2 separate regions of the Homo sapiens genome follow, and region 1 is linked to region 2. Evidence: fine-mapped expression QTL. Tissue or cell type: monocytes after LPS. Region 2 holds a variant in brackets; the other region holds the start of a gene. All regions are shown on one strand. Distances are between the middles of the regions.

Region 1 (11,156 bases), 70 kb after region 2:
TCGCTCTGTGGCCCAGGCTGGAGTGCAGTGGCACAATCTCAGCTCACTGCAACCTCTGCCTTCTGGGTTCAAGTGATTCTTGTGCCTCAGCCTCCAGAGTAGCTGGGATTATAGATACATGCTACCACACCCGGCTAATTTTTGTGTTTTTAGTAGAGACGAGATTTCACCATGTTGCCAAGGCTGGTCTCAAACTCCTGGGCTCAAGCAATCCACCCGCCTCGGCCTCCCAAAGTGCTAGGATTGATTACAGGTATGAGCTACCATGCCCATCCTCTAATCCAAAATTCTGCCTTCAAACTGCTAAAGCATAAATAGACTAATTAGACAAACAATTTATTCCCTTTTCTTTATTTTGTTAGTTGTTTGAATTGAAGTGAAAATAGGTAGCATGAATAAAATTTTTTAAGCTGTCTCTCCTTGGCCGGGCATGGTGGCTCATGCCAATTATCCCAGCACTTTGGGAGGCTGAGGCAGGAGCTCAGGAGTTTGAGACCAGTCTGGGCAACATGGCGAAACCCTATCTTTACAAAAAAAAAAAAAAAAAATAGCCAGGTATGGTGGTGTGTACCTATATTCCCAGCTACTTGGGGTGCTGAGGCAGAAGAATCGCTTGAGCCCAGGAGGTCAAGGCTGCAGTGAGCCTTGTTCACCCACTGCACTGCAGCCTGGGTGACAAAGCAAGATCCTGTCTTGAAGAAAAAAAAAAAAAAATTGGCCAATTTACAAAGACTCTAAAACCTAGAACAGACTTGAAGCTGTCTGGCTCCTAAACTGGTCAACATAGCACAGGAGTAAACAAACCAATATAGATTGTCAGAGCTGAGATTTACTACCCTGTATTATAATCCAGCCCTCATGTGTTTCAGAAGGTCATGCTTTGCTCAAAATTTTCTCCAAAACTATCCCTTAATATATTCTGAAGTTCATGAAACTAACCGGGTTTTCAGGGCACTGTAAAGGCCTTGTTGCAGTAGCGCAATCAGCTTCACCAAAACATCAGGCAAATCATATTTGTACATATTAACCATGTTGTTTTTCTAGACCTTAAAGGCCACCCTGTGAAGCTGCTGCCTGGGTATTGTGGTCTCTTAAAATGGTCCTGGTGAAAAAAACAACTTGGTTAGAGTTAATCAATGTAATTAACTCCTGTTCACAGACGACGGTTTCCTTGCTCTCTTAGTTCCAACAATGACTCCTTCAATGAATGTAAAGTCTCAATAGGTAACTGTTCTATCTCCTATTTAGATATCTACTATGTGAGGAATCTACAAGTGAATTATCGCTACTGAAAAGAAGATAACCTGGGTTCTGGTCCCAGGTACGTCTTAATTGTGCAACTCTGTCATTAAGCCTCCCTGCATCATGTAATGAGTGGGTTGGAGAAAAAATGTTAAAAGTCCCTCCCAGCTATAAAGTTTTAATTCATAACTTAAATTGCTGTCACTTCCTATTCTATGTTGAAGAAAGAATGTAAGATGCAGACACAGGTTCCATATTGCTATGGCATGATGCAGGGCCATACCAAATCAAATTGGCATTTCCTCATGTTCCATCTGCTACTAAAATGTATTATTTGTATGTCAGGCTGCAGAGTGGTCAAAGAACAACAGATTTTCTTGGCACTCCCTGTACATATTCCATGTAGATAAATATGGTGCTATCTCTAGGAAAATACTACAAATAATAACTGTCAATTCTTAGCAACTAGCAACATGCATTATTAAAAACAAACACAGCCTCTCATCTATAAGTTCCACTTCATAAAACATGTCTTTATGAGTCTTTATTGTTCCCATATGTGTAGCTCCACAATATTTTTGCTGCAGAATACAAGAATTACATAGATCACTAAAGTCCACAGATAATTCAAAACCTTCTGCTAGCCAATTATTCAATCCCTTCCACTGCTACGCTATTTGCCAGAGATGCTAACAAATAGCATAGTCAACTGGTTTGGGTTTCATACACTTTTCCAGACATGCTTGCTTTCTAATGGCCTATTCAAACAAGAGATTTATTTCTCTTAATTCTAAGTCTTTGAGAATTTGACCAAGAGGCATGAAATGTTCAATTCATTCTTTAAAACTGTTGCCTGGGGTCCCCTTTTGTCCCCCATTTAAACCTATCCACTGTTTAACCACTTGTATCATTCCTGATTCTTCTGTCTTACAATTCTGTGCTACATTTCTCTGCATGTGGTTTTGATTACTGTTTTTTCTGTATTCTTTATTGTATTCTATTTTAATTCTCCAAAAACTCAATTTATACACTGTCCATGAACTTATGAAAAAAAAGTGAAAGCAAAAATGATTCTCCACAAAACAGAGCAGCCAACTGAAAACTTTAAAAGCTTGAAAATTTTATGAGGCAATTAATATGAACTGATATGACATCTTCAATTAGATTCAAAGACACTTAGGATTACAAAAATTAGTCAGGCATGGTGGTGCACGCTTGTATTTCCAGCTACTCAGGAGGCTGAGGCATGAGAATCACTTGAAACCGGAAGGCAGAGGCTTCAGAGAGCAGAGATCGTGTCACTGCACTCCAGCTTGGGTGACAGAGTGAGACTCTGTCTCAAAAAGAAAAAAAAAAGACACTTAAGATGAAGAGAATTCCAACTCCTTATCTTATAGATAAGAAAACCGAAACCCAGAGAAAGGCTAAGTGACTTGCCCAAAATGATACACACAACTAGATACATCTATGATCTTATACATAAAATTACGAATTATCACCAGGAATGGTTCTTTTCACAGTTAAGAATAGCCCCATGAAGTCTGTTCCCAAAACCTGTGCAGGCAGCCACAGTGGCAAAATTCCATATCTGGGCCGGGTGCAGTGGCTCATGCCTGTAATCCCAGCACTTTGGGAGGTGGAGGCAGAGGCAGGTGGATCACCTGAGGTCAGGAGTTCGAGACCAGCCTGGCCAACATGTCGAAACCCCATCTCTACTAAAAATACAAAAATTAACTGGGCGTGGTGGTGCGTGTATATAATTCCAACTACTCCAGAGGCTGAGGCAGGAGAATCACTTGAACCCAGGAGGTGGAGGTTGCACTGAGCCGAGACCACGCCACTGCACTCTGGCCTGGGCAGCAGACCGATACTCCTTTTATATATATATATATATAAAATAAAAATTAAAGAATAAAAAAATTCCATATCTGAAGTCATTCCTTTAGGTCAAAACATTATCTCAAAAATTCTGAGATAAATAAAGTTGTTATTAGGGAAAATGGGAGAGAGTAACAGGGGAAAATATTCTAGAGTGTTAGGTTCTAAGTTAGAAGGTAGAAAAAAAAATACATATAATCAAAATGACTCTTGAAATCACCCACACACCTAAGTCACCTATAGAGTCCAATATGTATGTTTATTCATTGTGTTTTTCTTGAGACAGAGTCTCACTCTGTCAGCCAGGCTGGAGTGCAGTGGCGCAATTTCAGCTCACTGCAACTTCTGCCTCCCGGGTTCAAGCAATTCTCCTGACTCAGCCTCCAGGGTAGCTGGGACTACAGGCATGCACCACCATGTCCGGCTAATTTTTGTATTTTTAGTAGGGACAGGGTTTCACCATGTTGGCCAGGCTGGTCTCGGCCTCAAGTGATCCGCCCACCTCGGTCTCCCAAAGTGCTGGGATTACAGGCGTGAGCCACCGTGCCTGGCCTAGACTTATGTCTTAATGAGTCCCACACAGTCAGGTTTTCCTTTAGCAATAGAACAGAATTTTTTTTTATCATCAGATAAAGTTGCTGACTGTAATTTAAAAAGTAGTTTGTTCCAAATACATATACCTTTATTTATTTATTTATTTATTAGACAGAGTCTCACTCTGTCACCCAGACTGGAGTGCAGTGATGTGATTTCGGCTCACTGTAACCTCTGCCTCCTGGGTTCAAGTGGAACCACAGGCACACTGGGACCACAGGTGTGTGCCACCACACCTAGCTAATTTTTGTATTTTTTGGTAAAGATGTGGTTTCTCTACCAAAATGTTGGCCAGGCTGGTCTTGAACCCCTAACCCCAAGTGATCCGCCTGCCTCAGCCTCCTGAAATGCGGAGATTACAGGCATGCACCACTGCACCTGATCCCAAAACACATACCTGTAAATAACAGACTAGCACTCTGCGAGGGTACAGAAAAACCAGTCTTGTCTCCCATGCTGTCCTTACTAAGGGGCCTACTCTCCCTGCATTGGACAGCTGGCCTCATGTACTATTTATCTGTTATTTGTCTCCCACTCTCTTCTTGATTTGCCTAGAAGTACCAGGTGAATTTGTGCCATTTAATGCGTATATGATCTGACTCCATGATATTCCCTTATTCCCATGTTTGTGTATGGATGTAGTGATCTAGGTTAGATACTGGATGTGTAGGTACTGCAGGAGGAGGTAAAGCCTGGACTCAGGGCAGGGCAGGTGCAGTGAAGACTCCTAAAGCAGCCTAGGGACTCGTGGGTGTGTGGAAGGAAGAAGTGTTGAAGGAAATAGGGAGAAGGTCATTCTCTGTGGGACAGACTTAGCTCCAAATGTGATTTTCACCATGTTCATGATTTTTCTTCCGTTTGAATTTGATAGACACATTGCAACACATCCCATTTCGCTGATTTTCAAATAAGGACTTGATCACTGGCAAGTGACCTTACAGCAAACATAAAGAAATCAACATTTGGAAGTGCATTTGCCAATTAGTGCTCTAGGCGGCAGAAAAACCAGACCGCCACCCCTTGAAGACCTGCCACAAAGAGCCATGTGGAAAAACTGCACAGAGAAATGGTGGTTGTGAACAAGAGTACTGCCCTGGAATGAAAGGTTTTAGGCTATGTTGGACTCACTGAAAAAAGAAAGGTTAGTCTCATTAGAAAGTTTACCTGGCTCTAAGAAAATAATTACTTATCTGCTAACACAACTTCCATAGCAATGAAACAAGTTCCTGTAAGTATAAATTATCACAATTCCAAGCAGACAAAAATCTGTGTCTCCTGAACACATTATAGGGGTCAGCCTATAGATAACTCCATTATAGGGGTCCTCCTAAAGATAACCTAAGTTATCTTGCATATTGTGTCTGCAGTGTCCACAATGAGTTGGTCTGTATTCACACTGGATGATACAGGATTTCTCCACCAGGTCCTCTCACAGGACTCCAGGCATTTTTACAACTTGACCACACAAAAGAACACTCAGGCTGCTCCTCCCTTGCTCAAGGGAAGTACAGTAATGCCTCTCTCCGTAGCCCTTTCATAAGACTGTGCATAGATAAACACAGGTGTATACATAGCAATCTTTATGAACTTTGCATTGAATGTGTCAAAGAACAGTGGCGGTCCCAACATTCCATCCATTGTCTCAATCAGGAAAGCTACTCCTGAGACCTCAGGAAAGAGGAGGAAAAAATTCAAGTAACACATATGTTTACGAAACACTTCAGTAACAAAACAAAATACTTGTATTGGAGAGAAAATATATATATTTTTAATCACAAGGCATAGAAAGTAAAAATAATCAGCCTTAATTAGGTTTCCTTCATTAGTTGACAATGTAAATGGACTGAAACTACTACTCAAATATTCAAACCTTCATTTTACATGCAAGTGGCTTCCAGAAAATGATAAAGCAATATTCCCATGTGAGTGTGAAAGATGGCAATGAATTCTGGCCCATTATAAAGGAAGAGTCAGATTCCACTAGTCACTGCTTCGTTTAACTGCCAGGCTTTTAGGGAGCTATTTAATAAAAGGGGTCTCGCCCTAATAAATTGTGAGCGGTGTAAATAGGTGAGTGGTGTAAATATCTGAAATAGCCTGCACTCAATGAGGCTGTAGACCGCTTGGGGTTCACAGACTTTACAAAAATCATTCCGTAAAAAAATTACGTAGTGACAATCCTACCATTTAAAAAGAATAATGATGGTGATAATAATAGCTGGACAGGATCCTCCACTGCTGCCTGCTTCCCACATAAGTTGCCCAGCTGAAGGTGGTTAAGTTAAAGCCAGTTCTCTCCCCATTAGAGATGCGGGCTGGCAGCTGGCGGGGGAAGTCACCCAGTTTCCAGCTCCCCGTGGGTTTGACGGGACTGGGATTGCAACTGGGAACTAACTGGCTTGTAGGAAGCCCAGGTGGCTCAGACAGGGCTCGAGCTGTCCCCTCACCACCTTCCTCCCACGCAGACACCAAGTTAGATACGCAACTCCACGAGCACAATGACAAGAAGGCACACAAAAGGAGCAAGGCAGCCGCTCCCATCCTTACCTTTGACTTGACTTTCATACTCGGCTATGATCTCTTTGTCCTTCTTGAATCGGCTCGGGGTGGACATTATCCAGCTGTTCCGGGTTTGCTTTCAATGGGCAAGTTTTGTTCAGTGGTCACAACCCGTTCTCCTTGGAGAGGCAGAGTTGTACTCCCACACGCAGGCAATCCAGAGGCAGCGCCGACCCGAGGGAAGGGAGGAGGGAGAGGAGAAGTAGGAGGAGGAGGGGAAAAAGAGCGAGTAGAGAGGACTAGATTAGCCCGGGCGCTGGCACCATACTCTCGAAATTGAGCTCCGTCGGTAATCCCAGGGGATCCCCGGGGGAGAGGCCGGACGCGCAGGCAAACTCCAGCCAGCGAGTGGCGGGGGACGTCTCCCTGCCCACCTCGCCGGGAGCCCGGCCACTTCCTCTACGGCCGCTGGGCGGGCGCGGGGCTCGCGCCGGCGCTCCGCACCATTGTTCGAGACCCGCACCGGGCGCCCGGGACAGGGCCAGCGGCGGAGGGCAGGCGCTGGGAACGCGCCCAGCTCGGGCGCCACAACCCTCCCTTCCTGCCTCCAGCTGTCGGCTCCGGCGCTCAAGGGTCCCGCCCGGGCTGGGGATGCTGCTGCCACGGCCGCCGCTCCTCTGCCCGCAGACACTGCCGCTACAGCTCGGCAGGCGAAAGGAATCGCAGTCCTGACGCGAGTCCCCGCTGCTGCTGAGAGGGTGAAGGCGGCGACGCTCAGACGCGCCCTGGGCACAGCCCCGGCGGAGTTTAGGTCTCCAGAGCCGGCGCCGCGAGGGGCCTCTGCCTCCCTGGCCGCGGTGCGCCGAGGCTGCCTTTCTCTGCGTCCCCCTTTCCGCTGCTGCCCCCAGGAGGCCGCTAGTGACAGGCACACTCGCACACGCACGCGGGAGCCGCGCCCCCGGCGGCAGCAAAGTTGAGGGTGCGCACACGGCTCGCGCCTCGCGGGCGCCCGGCTAGCGATCTGCGGGCGGTGGCTCCTCGGGGCTCCGCCAGGCGGGGCCAGGCTCGCGGGAGCGGACCGCGCTCCGGCCTGTGCCCTTCTCCGTCCAAGCTCCCGCCCCTGCTCCGCTAGGAAACGCCTGGCTGGTCCGGGAAGATGGATGCCTCTTGTGGCCAACCGCAGCCCGGCCCCGCGCGCCGAGCCCAGGAGGCCGTGGGCGGCGCCCCCGGCACCTCCCTCCGCCGAGGCCCCGCACCTCCCTCCGCCGAAGCCCCGCTCCACCGCTAGCCGAGGTCGCGGCTCCGGCGGCAGGAAAACCCCTTCCTGACCTGAGGGACCGCCTTCTGGCTCTGGCGGGGGCTCTGGTGGGGCTTTTGCCAGAATCTAATGGGGAAGTCCAGAGTTGGATGTATCCATGACACAAAGGGATGTTACTCCGAGACGCTGGACCCCAATAGAAAAACTGAACACTGAATTGTGAATGACCTGGCTGTTAATCCAAAGAGCGCGAAGCTCTTCAATCGAGGCGGAGAAAAACACCCACCTTGAACACCATATCCTCTATTCCTACAGTAGATAGGGAAGCTAGGATGGTAGGAAAGCGATGGTATGGAAACACGTCACACTTAACGGCGTTGTTAGCTTATTTATTTACTAAACTCCAGATTTTATTCCAATTTTACCAATTTTTTCGACTAGTGTCATTTTTTCTGTTCCAAGATCCAACACAGGACACTACATTGCACTTAGTACTTTTACGGTTGTTTTTGTTTTTGTTTTTTGATTTTGTTTTTTGGGGGTTTTTTTTGAGACGGGGTCTCACTCTCGCCCAGGCTGGAGTGCAGGGGCACGAGCTCCGCTCACTGCAACCTCCGCCTCCCGGGTTCAAGTGATTCTCCTGGCTCAGCCTCCAGAGTAGGTGTGACTACAGGCGCCCGCCACCGTGCCTGGGTAATTTTTGTATCTTTAGTAGAAACAGGGTTTTGCCATGTTGGTCAGGCTGGTCTTGAACTCCTGACCTCAAGTGATCCGCTCACCTCGGCCTCCCAAAGTGGTAGGATTACAGGTGTGAGCCACGGCGCCCGGCCACGTTTTTAATAGATACCTTTTACAAGATCTATCGTGTCTAGTCTCTTTTTATTTTATTTGTTTGTTTGTTTTCATTTTAGTACAGACGGGGGTCTCCCTATGTTGTCCAGGCTGGTCTCAAACTCTAGTCTCTTTTTGAACAATATAACGAAGAATTTACCTTGCCATCTTTGCATGGTTCAGGTGTTGTGTTAAGTACTTTAAATCCATCCTTGCCAGCCTTTTAAATTTTTTTTTATTATTTTTACTTTTTTGTAGAGATGAAGCCTTGCTCTATGGCCCAGGCTGGTCTCAAACTCCTGGCCTCAAAAGATTCTGGCTGGGCACGGTGGTTTACACCAGTAATCCCAGCACTTTGGGAGGCCGAGGTGGGCAGATCACAAGGTCAAGAGTCCGAGACCAGCCTGGCCAACATGGTGAAACCCCATCTCTACTAAAAATATAAAACTTAGCCGGGCATGGTGGCATGTGCCTATAATCCCAGCTACTCAGGAGGCGGAGGCAGGAGAATCGCTTGAACCCAGGAGGTGGAGGTTGCAGTGAGCCAAGATTGCACCACTGCACTCCAGCCTGGGCGACAGAGGGAGACTCCTTCTCAAAAAAAAAAAAAAAAAAAAAAAAGAAAATCCTCCGACCTCAGCCTCCCAAAGCACTGGGATTACAAGCATCAGCCACCACACCTGGTTCTGTTAGCCTTTTTGACTCACACCACTTGAGATATTTACTGACTCCTTTCAAATCAATTCTCAAATATTATGGGCCTGATTTATCAAAATGATGTGTCCAAAGGTGTATCCCCTCAAGTGTTTTCCCCACAAGATCTAAAGAAAGTAGGGACTTTTAGACTTTGATCATTCTTTCATGTATCCAGTGATCGGCTCTCCAGTTCTTAACTCTGTGCCAAACACCACGCTAGGAACTAGGGATTCAAAGATTAAGACTGCCGGAAAGGATCATGCAGTCTATTACTGTATAAATAAATAATTACAAGCAGTACAATAATGCTGTAAGAGATAGAAATACTCCCAGTCTTGGGAGCACTGGGGATGGAAAAACAGACTGCATAAGAGGATTGGGTGTAAGAGTTCGCAGAGGAGTGGTTTTGAGCTGGATTTAAAGGATGAATAGTAAGTAGCTGGCAACTTTAGGGAGGAAAAGGGATGCATTCCAGGGAAAAGGAAGAGTGTTATACTCTAGAGGAATTGCAAATAGAGTGACAAGATATCTTCCACTAAGATACCAGATCTCTGCTAGATGGTGAAAAATAATGTAAAAAATTGTAATATATGTATATGCATGTGTCAGCTGATAGTATGTGGGTATGTGGACATTGTTAATTGCACTGCTTTTTTAAAATCTAATTTTAGCAAGTTTTTTTTACTTTATAGCAACAGAATATATGTAAAGAAAATATGCCAATTTTTTTTAAGTTTTTTTTTCAGTCTTTTTTTCATTTTACCACACAGGCAGTTATACTATGGCACCCCTGGCTGCCCTAATTTCACGTGGAGCTGTCTTATGTAAGAGTGTACGGTGAAGAGAAAGCAGAGGCTGGAAGGAAGGTCAGGGCCAGCTGGGAGAGTCCTCCTGTGCCATGCTAAGATCTTGGACACAGTTCTGCAGACAGCAGGGAGCCTTTTAAGTAGAGAAGTATCACGATCAGATTTGTGTTTTATAAAGATAACTGTTGGCAGTGTAGAAGGATGGGTTAGCCATAGAGAAAGAGAGACCAGGCAGGCAGCCTACTTAGGTGATAATCATAGTCACATCTAAATGGGATTCATATCCATGATGCTGTTGGGATTTGTTTCATATTTGCACCTGGGAAGCACAAGTTGACAGCAGAGATTGCAGCACCTAGAAATGAATTGTTGCCTGAGTCTAGACCTAAATCAGTGTGTTGCAAACAAGCCCCAGAGACAGGGTGCCCAGAGGTGAATCCTAAATCTGCTGTTTCCTAAGGGATCTGGTAAAAATTACTATTCTCTCTAGGCCTTAGTTTGTAAAATGGGTTACAAATTTTCCTTATCTGTAAAATTGGTTAATGCCTAAGTCCTGGGGATGTTATAAGCACTTACTGAGATAAACCCTTAAAAGTACTTGTAGGCCATGGTATACACCCAGTGAGTATTAGTTATCTTTACAATTATTATCTTAGTTTTACTCTTCCTAATAGAAAGCTATCTAAAAATCAGAGATAGGCTGGGCGTGGTGGCTCATGCCTGTAATCTAAACACTTTGGGAGGCTGAGGTGGGAGGATTGCTTGAGCCCAGGAGTACAAGACCAGCCTCATTTCTACAAAGAATAAATAAAGATCAGAGATAATGTTTCATCTTTAATTTTATTATGGTGTTCAATACACAGTCAATAAAATGTATTGAATATTAATGCCACCATTAGTAGGCCACCATTTTATTGTTGTTGAAGATGGGATATACCCACTAAGGTAAGAATTTTGCACACATTCTCAGAAGAACCCTACATGGCGGACACCATTGTCCTCATTTTACAGATGAGAATCTGGAGGCTCAGAAAATTCAGTAAATGTCTGGCCTGGCAGGGTCAGAATTCCAGTTCACATCTGCCTGTCTCCAAAGTGGGTACTCTTTCCAATTTTCCATTCCACTTCCTATGAACTTATGATTCCTTTAAACTTGTGAAGTGAGTTCAAATAAGTAAAATGTGTGTGACGGAGTCATGGGTTTCTATTGGTGGATCTCTTTTCTGATCCAACTGTTTAGTGTAATTAACAAGTCAATTAGTGTTTCCATTATTTTCTTTTAACTTTTTTTTTTTTTTTGACACAGAGTCTCACTTGCCCAGGTTGGAGTGCAGTGGCATGATCTCAGCTCA
Region 2 (11,156 bases):
ATGCCCAGAGAGAAGAAAATAGCTAGAGATGGCACTAGAGATATGGGCAGGAACCTGGTCATTCAGGTCATATCGTGGATTACTCATAAAGGCAATAAAGAAGTCTTGAAGGGTTTTGAACTTGGAGGTTCAAAGTGAGCCAGCTGCAGAGTCGACAATGGATTATTGAAAGATTAGAACAAATGCAGTTAGGAGATTACGACAGCACTCAAGGTGCAAACTGGTGGTAACGTAGCTGGCATTAGAGTGATCACGATGGAGATGGAAATAAATGAACACATTCTAGAGATATTTTAGAAGTAAACTGTCAGGTGGTGGTAATGGAGTGGTACTGGTGACAAGCTAGGGGGAGATATTAAAGATGACTACCAGATTTCTGGCTTGTCGAACCAGATGGATGGGCCACCACTCACTGAGATAAGGAAGAAGTTCAAGGGTGGGACAAAAAAGCATTTGTTCAGTTTTGTACATGTTTAATTGAAGGTACTTTTGAAACATCAACAGATGACATGTCAAGTAGGTAGCTACAAATACAATGAATATATATTCTCCATATTAAAAAAACTTTTCATTTTCTCCCCAACCCTACTCTTCTTTTCAAGGTCTTTCCCATTTCGTCAATGGATCTACATTCTCTGTTATTCACTCCCAAACCAGGATATTATCCTTAATTCCTCCCTTTTTCACACCTCCATCCAAACCATTTACAGGTCTCACTCACCAGCCTACCTTCAAACTATGTCCTGAATCTAGCTTCTCACCACCTTCTTCACCAACACTGACAGAAGCCAGAACTATCTCTTGCCTTAACTTCTGCATATCCAACTCATCTCTAGGGTCTCATTCTCATCATCCCCTATAATCCAATCACATAGAAGCCAACATATTTTAAAAACATTAATCAAATCACATTCCTCCCTTCTAATCGCCTTGTCATGTCTTCTCATACTCTCATATCAAGTCTAAAGTACAGTATTTACCATGGCATCCCAGGTTCTAGGAGAACTAGCCTCTCCACTCCTTCCCAACCTTGTATCTCCAGCTCACTTCTCTTTATTCACAAGGACTCTCTTGCTACTCCATGGACATCTCAGGATAATTTCAGCCTGTGTTTTGTTGCCTTGGAACATTCCACCCATCAGTCATTCATGGTTTGGTCGTTCACTTCATTCAGGTTTCTGCTCAAGTCACCTCTTCAGAGGCTATATCTCAATAGTTATCAGGAAATGTCAATGAAGACCACAATGCAATGTTATACCCACCAGACTGGCAAAAATTAAGATGTTTTATAATACCACGTGCTGATAAAAAGTGGGTCTGCTGGAGCTCTTAATCACTTATGAGTGGGAATGTAAACTGGTGATGCTCCTTCGGAAAACAATGCAGTCGTATCATGTGAACTTGAACACTGACATACCCAATAACCATGCAATTCCACTCCCAGCAATAGGCCATGGAGAAACTCCTGTATATGTGTGTTAATAGGAACACATGAAAATGTTCAGCAACATTGTTCAAATAGCAGAAAGCTGGAAACAATCCAAATATCCACCAACAGGGCAATGAATCAATTGATTCTGCATACTCACCCAACAACACATAATTCAGCTTTTAAAATGAATGAACTACAGCTACATGCAACAATGTCAAACAGTTATACTATTTTTACAAATCAAAACAAACAAGCAAAATTAGCTGTATAGTACTTATGAGCATATTTTTAAGGGATAAATAACATTTTTTAAAAAAAGGCAAGAGAAAGAAAAAAATTAGGAAGTAGTTGCTTCAAAAGATAGGCAGGTATATGGGATGGGGCAGAGCACAGATAAGTGCGACAGAATTGGCAGGGCTTTTGTTTGTAGATTAGGTGGTAAGTCATACATATGACACTGTTATCCTTTATAATTTTCAAACATAGTTGTGTGTGTGTGTATGTGTATATATATATATATATATATATGTAATGTTAAGTTAAAACAATTAAAATATTGGCCAGGCACAGTGGCTTACACCTGTAATCCCAGCACTTTGGTAGGCCAAGGCAGGTGGATCATTAATATACAAATATATATTAAATGTTAAGTTAAAACGATTAAAATATTGGCTAGGCATGGTGGCTCACACCTGTAATCACAGCACCTTGGGAGGCCAAGGCAGGTGGATCACTTGAGCCCAGGAGTTCCAGATCAGCCTGGGCAACATGGCGAAACCCTGTCTCTACAAAAAATACAGAAAGTAGCCAGGCATAGTGGTGTGTGCCTGTAGTCCCAGCTTCCAGTCCCAGGAGACTGAGGTGGGAGAATCACTCCAATCCGTGAGGCGGAGGTTGCAGTGAGCTGAGATTACACCACTGCACTCCAGCCTGCACCACAGAGCAAGATCCTGTCTCTAAAAACCAACTAAACAAACAAAAACACAAAAAACACCCCTCCCCAAAAAAACCAAAATACGAAATAACTAACATACCTCTTCTCTGAACTTCATTTGTCTTTATAGCACACGTCACTCCCCAAAGAATATATACATACACACTGACTCACACTCATGCACTCATTTCCTTGTTTATTTTAAGTCTCTCCCATTAGAATGCAAACTCCCTAACTGTGGAGTCTTTGACATTCTTGTTCACCACAGTATTTCCAGGCCTAGAAGAGTACTCGGCATATACAATAAATATTTATGGAATAAATGAATAAATGGATGAACAAATGGCCTAGATAGTGCAAACAAAGCAATAGAGCACTGGCTGGTGCAACGGCTCACGCCTGTAATCCCAGCACTTTAGGAGACCGAGGTAGGCAGATTGCTTGAGCCCAGGGATTCGAGACCAGCTGGGGCAACATGGTAAAACTTCATCTCTACAAAAAATACACAAATTAACTGGGCATGGTGGCACATGACTGTAGTTCCAGCTACTCAGGAGACTGATGTGGGAGGGTCACTTGAGCCTGGGAGGCAGAGGCTGCAGTGAACCATGACTGCACTACTGCACTCCAACCTGGGTGACAGAGTGAGGCTTGTCTTAAAAAAAGAGAGAAAGCAATAGAGCATAAAAGGCTTAGTTCATGAACCCTGAAGTCAGACACTTCCAGGTTCAAATCAAGGCTCTCATTAGTCTTCTTAGCTGGGTGACCTTGAATGAGTTGCTTAACTTCACTGGGTTTCCGTTTTCTCATCTCTAAAACAGGGTAATGGGGGGAGGAGGGGTTGTGATGATTAAAAAAAGAATTTAGCACTTTGTCCAGCACAATATTATTCTTGCACAACGACAGTGTAATTTCCTCATAAAAAGCGGCTTTTTATTGCTCAAGGACATAGCTTTGAGCAATCTGCATTCTTTACGCAGTTTTACTATGACTGATTTTGTCCACACCCAATTTTAAAATGTGAACCAATTGGGCATCCTATAGTTGTTGCTACAGTTTGCTCAGACTAAGGCCATGTGCTAGGGAAATCTTGTAGCCACCAAACTTCCAGTGAGTATGGCACAATATAATCTTGCATTTGTGCTAGCCACTAGCATAGGAAATCAGCAAGACGAGAATAGCAAAAATAACAGCCATTTATTCACGGTTTTCTGTAGGATAAACAACACAGACACATCATCCCATGAACTTCTCACAGCTAGCGTGGGAAATTGGTGTGTACAAGAATTACAGAAAGCAGGGTGGGAAATTGGTGTGTACAAGAATTACAGAAAGCAGGTTCATTATAAACTGTTTTCAAATTTGGGCCTAAGCAGGTTCTGAAATAGAGACCATATTCAAATAGTAATTAGAAATTCTTAAGAGTAGATTTGCACTATCAGCTATAATATATCCTTTTAAAACAAAACAGAAAGCAAGCTCTTTCACATCCTAGATGATGACTTATTTTATAGTAGTAAAACCCAGGGCCTTCGCTGCTGTGAAGCCCATGCAGTCCCTTCCAAAAATTATGGTAGCAAATTCAAAAGGAGCAACTGCGCAGTGCTGTTGACTCACATTGCTCCCAACACACTCACAATAAAAATGAACTTTTCAGTGAACTGACCTATATTTTCCACCCTGGACTCTAGCCAAGACCCAGGCATCCATACCTCTAATGGACCATACTGTCTTAGAGAGCCCTAGGTCTTTCTGGGAGTCTTTTCCAGTTCTGCTCAGGCTCCAGGTCCAAAGGACAGCCCAGGGGTTCCGACGACTCAGGAGAATCCCAGATGAATAATAATTACTCATCATAACAATAATAACGCTTTATACGGTGTTTACTATGTATCAGGCAGTATTTATTATTAGTGTTGTACATATATTTGCTCATTTAATCTGCATAACTGCCATTAAATAGCATATCCCATATGTTATATCCCATGGGGTAGATATAAAGCTTGCAATATGACTAAATCTCACAAGTGAGATTCCTTAAAGTGAACACATGAAATCTATATGCAATCTGACCTTGCTGAGCAAGGTGAGACCACAGCAGAAATCAGCAGCCCATGCCAAATGATCCTTGGTGGTACTGGAAAATGATCTGGCCTCGTGGTTTTGATCAAATGGCACACTCTCCTCTCAGATCCAAACCACAACTTCCCCAAAATTAATCAAGGAGAAATAAATGGATAGAGGGTGGAGCAGAAGAGTACTTAATTTTTGTCACATTTCACACCCTAACTACTTCTCATTAAGTCTACTGGCCTGCATGCGATTCCCAGACCTTTCTTAAATCTCATGACTTTTATATCATCCTAGGCACCTTATGCCCCTTCTCAGCTTTCAGCATAGTCACAACTTCCTCTGGAATTTCTTCCTGATTCAAATGTTCCC[CGTCATTTCCCT/T]CCAGCCCCTCTATGCTTAGAACACTCTGCACACATTTCCTACAGTATGTAATTACTGCTTTCAGTTTTAGTTATTTTGTCCATCTCCCCTTTAAACTTTTAGCATCTCAAGACCACGGATGACATTTGTTTTCCCAGCGTCTGGTATAGAGCTGGCTGAGCTGCTGCAGACAAGTAATAAATGTTTACTAACTGAATGAACTAAGGAAATCATGCTCCTCAAAGATGGCACACAGTTTCTCATCACCCACCTAAAGGTGTCTCAAACTGGTGGGGATCTGCCTGATTTGTAATGAAGGAATTATAAAACAACCTTTCAGGCTGGGCATGGTGGCTCATGCCTGTAATCCCAGCACTTTGGGAGGTCAAGGTGGGCAGATCCCTAGAGCTCAGGAATTTGAGACCAGCCTGGGCAACATGGTGAAACCTCATTTCTAGAAAAATCAGGCAGGCATGGTGGCACATGCCTTGTGGTCCCAGCTACTCGAGAGGGTGAGGTGGGAGGATCGCTCTAGCCTGGGAGGCAGAGGTTGCAATGAGCCATGATCACACCACTGCACTCCAGCCTGAGTGACAGAGTGAGACCCCATCTCAAAAAAAAAAAAAAAAAAGAAAAGAAAAGAAAAGACACCATTTCTGAGCATTTTGCTTCCAAGCCCTAGAATTTAAACTTGCCTCTTTTTCAGTAAAACAATAACCAATACTACCACCTATGACCAAGGCTTCTATTTCATCCTTGAGACTTCTCACTTCATTAATATCCAAGTTTCTGAATAGCTTTTGAAGGTTAGTGAAAGGCTGCTCAAAACGTTTTGAGCTGAGTTTCTGTTCTGAGAGTTACTTTTTCTCTTCAGGGCAAATCACATTTGGTTTTCCTTTATCTTTCTAATAAATGCTGTTTGAAAGGTTGGAGGCATTGAAGGTGAAGAGAGAAAGACATATCTAGAAGTTGTTAATCAATAAGGAATTTCTCTGGACGCCTGTGTGACCTCAGCGTTTTTCACATTTCCACAGGTCTCCTTGGAGATGGTTGCTATGATCACTCAGTGTCTCCAGCTAAAAATCTTCAAAATGTGGATCACTGCTTTTATTCTCTTTTGTCTCCTCTTTATTAGCTGTTTTCCCCTCACACATATTTTATTTCTCTATGAATGCAATCTGCTCATAATTTTTTATCAAATTATATTCCATACAAATAGAATGCCCCCATTCTTTTGGTTCCTCTGGAAATGCTTTTATTTGGATTATAACATTTGGCAGTCCATTAGAAATACTATTTATACTTTTATGTTTCCTGGTTCCCTGAAAGTAAATTATTCATATGGCAGTTAGCCCTGCCTACTTCTGTTTCAAAAAACACTAATCTACACTGGAAGTAACTAAACATTGACAATAAAAATGTCCAACCTGATTGATGCTCTTCATGTTGCTTATTTAACAAGCCCTTAGCATGGAATATCTCCAGATTAATTTTTAAATTTATGCAACTTTTATATTTCCCCTCTTTACTAAAGTTAAAGCAAATATACTTTTATTTGACTCTACTTTCATTATTCACATTTCAAATATCTAAATTATTTCATGATGGAGGTTTCTTACAAAAATATATAAGAAGAAAAAGAACTTGAAATGCTGAGTAGATTAAAACAAAATTTAAGTATCAATTGTCCAATAAGCAGAGAAAGCTAAAATACAATATTCAAAAACAATCTTAACATCCTTCCACAGCAAGGTTAGATGCTTTGTTGAAATATATAATTCAAATGTAAATTACAAAATAGAGCTCTTCTGGGATTTTTCAAAGTCCTAATTACGTAGGTCAGCTGAATAGGGAACATATTTAGAAAAAAAAAAGTACGGAAAAAAATATAGTAAATGAATCAGAGGGAATGGTTTTTAGACAGAAACTTGTAGGGTTTTCCGTTAGCTGCCTTATTTTTGGAAGAGAGGACCAGCTCAGAAACAAACACCAAAATTCAAACCTGCAAAGAAAGGCAAACCTGTGCAGCAGAATTACAGTAACGTAAATCAGTGGCAACGTGATACAAGGACTTTTTATTGGTACAAGTAATTCATACAAAAATGCAAATCCCATTTTGTTCACACGGAAAAAGATTATTTTATTATCTTCATAAAAAGATAATTCTTGACAATATTAAATTGTAGTAGTAGATATAGGGAGACATCAGAAATTAATTCTTCTAGATCTATTTTACACCCATAAGCTGTGAATTTATGAATCAAGCCATAATCAGGTCACTAAAAACAAAAAGGAACAGATAAGCAGCTAGAATCCATTCATTTGTTCATTCAATCAATGACACTTACTGAGCATTGATTTTATACCAAGCACTGTGGTTGGAATTTGGAAGGGAAAAGTGATTAAGAGCCGGGTTCAACTATCCTTAAGGTTTTGTGGGAAAAACAGAACCATAAACCGTTAATTACAGTATGATAATGATAAGTACAATGACTGAGGGATAAAACACAGTAGAATTCAGTCTTTAAAAAGGGACAAGTGATAGGTATGAAAATGGTTTTATGAGAGTCACAGTGTCATTGTTCTGAACAACAAATTCATTACTGTTGATACAAAAATACTGTTCATACAAGAGGGACTTTGCCCTTAGGTACTTACAGCCTAGCACAGAGGACAGATAAGAAAAAATAATAAATAGTGCTTCCCAAACTATCTGTAATAAAGGACCAGTTTTTTCAAATGTAAATCCTTCACGATGGATACTTTCATAAAAATTTGTTTAAAACTAGAAAAAAAAATAAAAATTAAGATATAAAAATGCAATCTCCAATTTTTATTATTAGATTCCAGAGTCATAAAATTACTTTGTTAAATTGCTATACAAGGTCTAAATGCTTACCTTCAATTTTTGTGCCTATTTTATGGACGACGGGTAACACACATTGTGGTCCATGTACAAATATTGCAATAAAATATTAGAGATGCTAATATAAAAGTATATATGCTGCTGTCACATAGGAGGAAGTGATCCATTAACAGGGAGAGAGATGAAGTTCATCTAAGAAAAAGCTTTGTAAAAGACTTGACCCTTGAACTGTGTCTTTATATACATATGTGTGTATATATATAATACACACATATATGTATATATATATACACATATATGTGTATTTATATATATATATCCATATATATATATATATATATATGTGGACACAGTGACACATGCCTATAATCCCAGCACCTTGGGAGGCCAAGGTGGGAGGATCGCTTGAGCCAAGAGTTCAAGACCAGCCTGGGCAATATGTGAAACCCTGTTTCTACAAAAAATACAAAAATTAGCTAGGCATGGTTATGAGCACCTATAGTCCCAGCTACCCAGGAGGCTGAGGTGGGAGGATCACCTGGGCCAATGTGGGCAAGAGTGAGACCCTGTCTCAAAAAAAAAAAAAAAAAAAAAAAAAAAAAAGAAGGATTTACCAGAAAATTGGTTGCACTGAGAGGCATAAAGAACAGCATTCCAGGTAGGAGGAATAAAACATGGGAGGTAGGAAAAGCAAGAATTTCTATGTCATTGCATAATGAGGGAGAAGAAGAGGCAGATCGAGGAGGGCCTTATAAGCTAAACACAAGCCTTATGTGTGGAATAGCACCCTATTTGATGAAATTTCAAAATGAGGACTAAGGAAAGCACTTGACTCCTCTACTGGGTATTTAAAATGTTGTTGTAAGCAACCCCAGTGATACTCACAAGTGAATTTAATCCTTCTAGGTGGAGCTTATTAATATTATCTAAACTTCCTCTTTCTTTCCAGCTAGTGTTGCAGGCCATGAACCCTCGTCCTAGTGTTGCAGGGCTGAACTACCTCTAAAATGTTGGTCAAAAATCCCTACCATGTAAAACTAGAGTTTTCAGATGGGAAACAACAGCGTTTATATTTCTCTTTTTTAAAAAAATTTTGTTTTCATCTTGCTATCTGTCCCAGCAGAATGGCAGAGCAACAAACAGTGTGTACTCTATCCAGTGCTGATTTTTTTTTTCTTTCTTTTAAAATGGAGTCTTGTTCCATCACCCAGGCTGGAGTGCAGTGGCTTAATCATAGCTCACTGCAGCCTCAAACTTCTGGGCTCAAGCCATCCTCCCACCTCAGCCTCCCAAGTAGCTGGGGTTACAGGCTCATGCCACCACGCCTGGGTAATTTTTTATTTTTAATATTTTTAGAGATGGGGGTCTCGCTTTGCTGCCCAGGCTTATCTGGAACTCCTAGCCTCAAGTGATTCTCTCGCCTTGGCTGCTCAAAGTGCTGGGATTACAGGTCTGAGCCACGGTGCCCAGCCTAGTGCTGACTTTTACATGCTCCGTGACATTGAATAAATTACCCTTTCAGTTTCCTCAACTCTGAAATAGGGATAGTGTCAGTACCTACCTCACAGGGCTTTTGTACTGTGAGGATTAAATGAGTTAATACAAGTAAAACACTCAGAACAGTGCCTGGCAAACAGTAGATGATCAATAAGTGTCCCTGAGTTATTAGTATCATTAAAAATAAAAGGAAATGGACACAGATTGGTGTATAATGTCCCCCTTCTCTTCTTCCCCAGTGCCATTCATCTAAGTATGCAAAAGTGAGACCAAGTACACTCCCTAATTTCTAACTCTGCACATCCTCCACTATTTCTCCAACATCATTTTAACCTAAAGATGTACCACAGGTGGAGAAAATAGAGCTAATTATAGGCCTCTGGAGTAAAATGACTAAGGAAAATCAATGGAGAAGAGCTTATTTTCTGTCCTAGTCCCACCTTAGTTATCCCTAAAATTAGAAGCCAGTAGTTTTGGGTTATTGAAAGACACTTCCTCTGTGAGGGGAAACCGGAATGAGACAAGACTGTTTAGGTAAGCTTTATTTAAAACATTCAGCACCTCTTAGCAATGTAATCGGGGTGATGCTTAAATATTTTAAAGTCTGAGATGGTTGTCAAGAGTTCACTGAGCATTTGACAACAACTGGGAACTACAGAATTAGCAACGTGGTGCCACTTCACACAGAAGACTTAGCAAGGGGATACAGTAATTCTGGGTCAGGAATGTTAAGAGTTTATCTTAATTTAGCAGCTGTAGTGCTGCAGTAGCCAAATCTAGCGAAGTCTTTTCAGGGAGATCAGCTAAGGGCACAGCCGTCTAGACAAAACACCACCACAACTACATGGATGGGTGCAGAGATAGATGCAAGGTTGACTAAGATGTTGCCAGCACATTAGCAGAAACTTGAAGAAATCCAGAGGCAAGAGTTTAAAAACACTGTGCTGGGTGACACCTTAAAGTTATTGAGGTGTTTTCTTTTCTTTTTTTTTTTTTTTTTTTGAGACAGAGTCTCACTCTGTCGCCCAGGCTGGAGTGCAGTGGTGCCATCTCGGCTCACTGCAAGCTCCGCCTCCTGGGTTCACGCCATTCTCCTGCCTCAGCCTCCTGAGTAGCTGGGACTACACGTGCCTGCCACCACGCCTGGCTAATTTTTTGTGTTTTTAGTAGAGATGGGGTTTCACCGTTTTAGCCAGGATGATCTCGATCTCCTGACCTCGTGATCCACCAGCCTCGGCCTCCCAAAGTGCTGGGATTACAGGCATGAGCCACCGCACCTGGCCAAAGTGTTTTCTTTTTTTATATATACTTTGGATTTGTTGTCAAGTGTATTGTTTCTGAGACTATTCCTTTCTCCTCTATTCTCAAAACATGTCCACATCTCTACTCTAGAGTTGTCAGGACAAATGGAGGATCTCTTCCACTCTGGGGTAGGCCCTTTTAAGATCAGACTGGGATGACCTCTCCACTGTTCCCATCTCCCAAAAGGCACTGTCCCTTAAAGACAACATATTATATTGGTTTTACCATCACCAGTAGTGAATATAAAAGCACAAGAGAAAATATTATGGTGTACCTATAACCACGAGCAACAAACCTCTCTACTCCATATTTGCCTTCTTTATGCCTCCCTACCATGTCTTATAGATATTACTAAATCATTACTGTAAGGTTCCATGCATTTTCCCCTCTAAAGTACCATGACTTTAATGTGTTTCAAAACACCTAGTATTACTGTTCCTGTAGAAAGACCCCAATGCTTGCAAGATCAAAATGGGTCAGAAGAGGGTGGGAAGGAAATGTAACTACATTGTGTTACTCTTGAATGCTACATTTATTTAATAGTTAAGTACGGTTGGAAGGATAGTCAGCTAAAGACAATAGCAGATTATAGATCAGTGACCTTGAGGTGGAAATAAACCCAGAACAGAAGGTATAGGCATATTTAGTGAAAATAATTGGGCTGCCAGAGAGATTGGGGGAAACAATTTCCTGCT

Direction of the effects. Positions count from the first base shown, and alleles are read on the strand shown. Sizes are in standard deviations (SD) of each study's normalised expression.
In carriers of allele CGTCATTTCCCT in region 2, the expression in monocytes after LPS of the gene that starts at base 6,445 in region 1 tends to be higher than with T alone (large effect, 0.86 SD a copy in Quach 2016).

Evidence for each region. PIP is the estimated chance that this variant, and not a neighbour inherited with it, causes the effect.
Region 1: it holds the start of SRGAP1, and the variant in region 2 is fine-mapped to the expression of SRGAP1 in monocytes after LPS (Quach 2016, PIP 0.95). The same link has a PIP of 0.9 or more in monocytes after Pam3CSK4 and monocytes after R848.

Annotation. Positions count from the first base shown.
Region 1 is chr12:63,839,989-63,851,144 of GRCh38, reverse strand. It overlaps SRGAP1 (SLIT-ROBO Rho GTPase activating protein 1), which reads right to left and starts at 6,445. Exons shown (of 22, transcript NM_020762.4): 1 at 6,262-6,445. The coding sequence starts at 6,328. RefSeq lists silencers at 6,603-6,862, 6,973-7,032, 7,093-7,512 and enhancers at 6,439-6,938, 6,939-7,440.
Region 2 is chr12:63,910,304-63,921,459 of GRCh38, reverse strand. All of the region lies in intron 1 of SRGAP1 (SLIT-ROBO Rho GTPase activating protein 1), which reads right to left. Among named protein-coding and RNA genes, the nearest start is that of SRGAP1, 71 kb to the right of the region's middle. RefSeq lists an enhancer at 1,814-2,602. The variant CGTCATTTCCCT/T (reference allele first, on the strand shown) is at 4,806.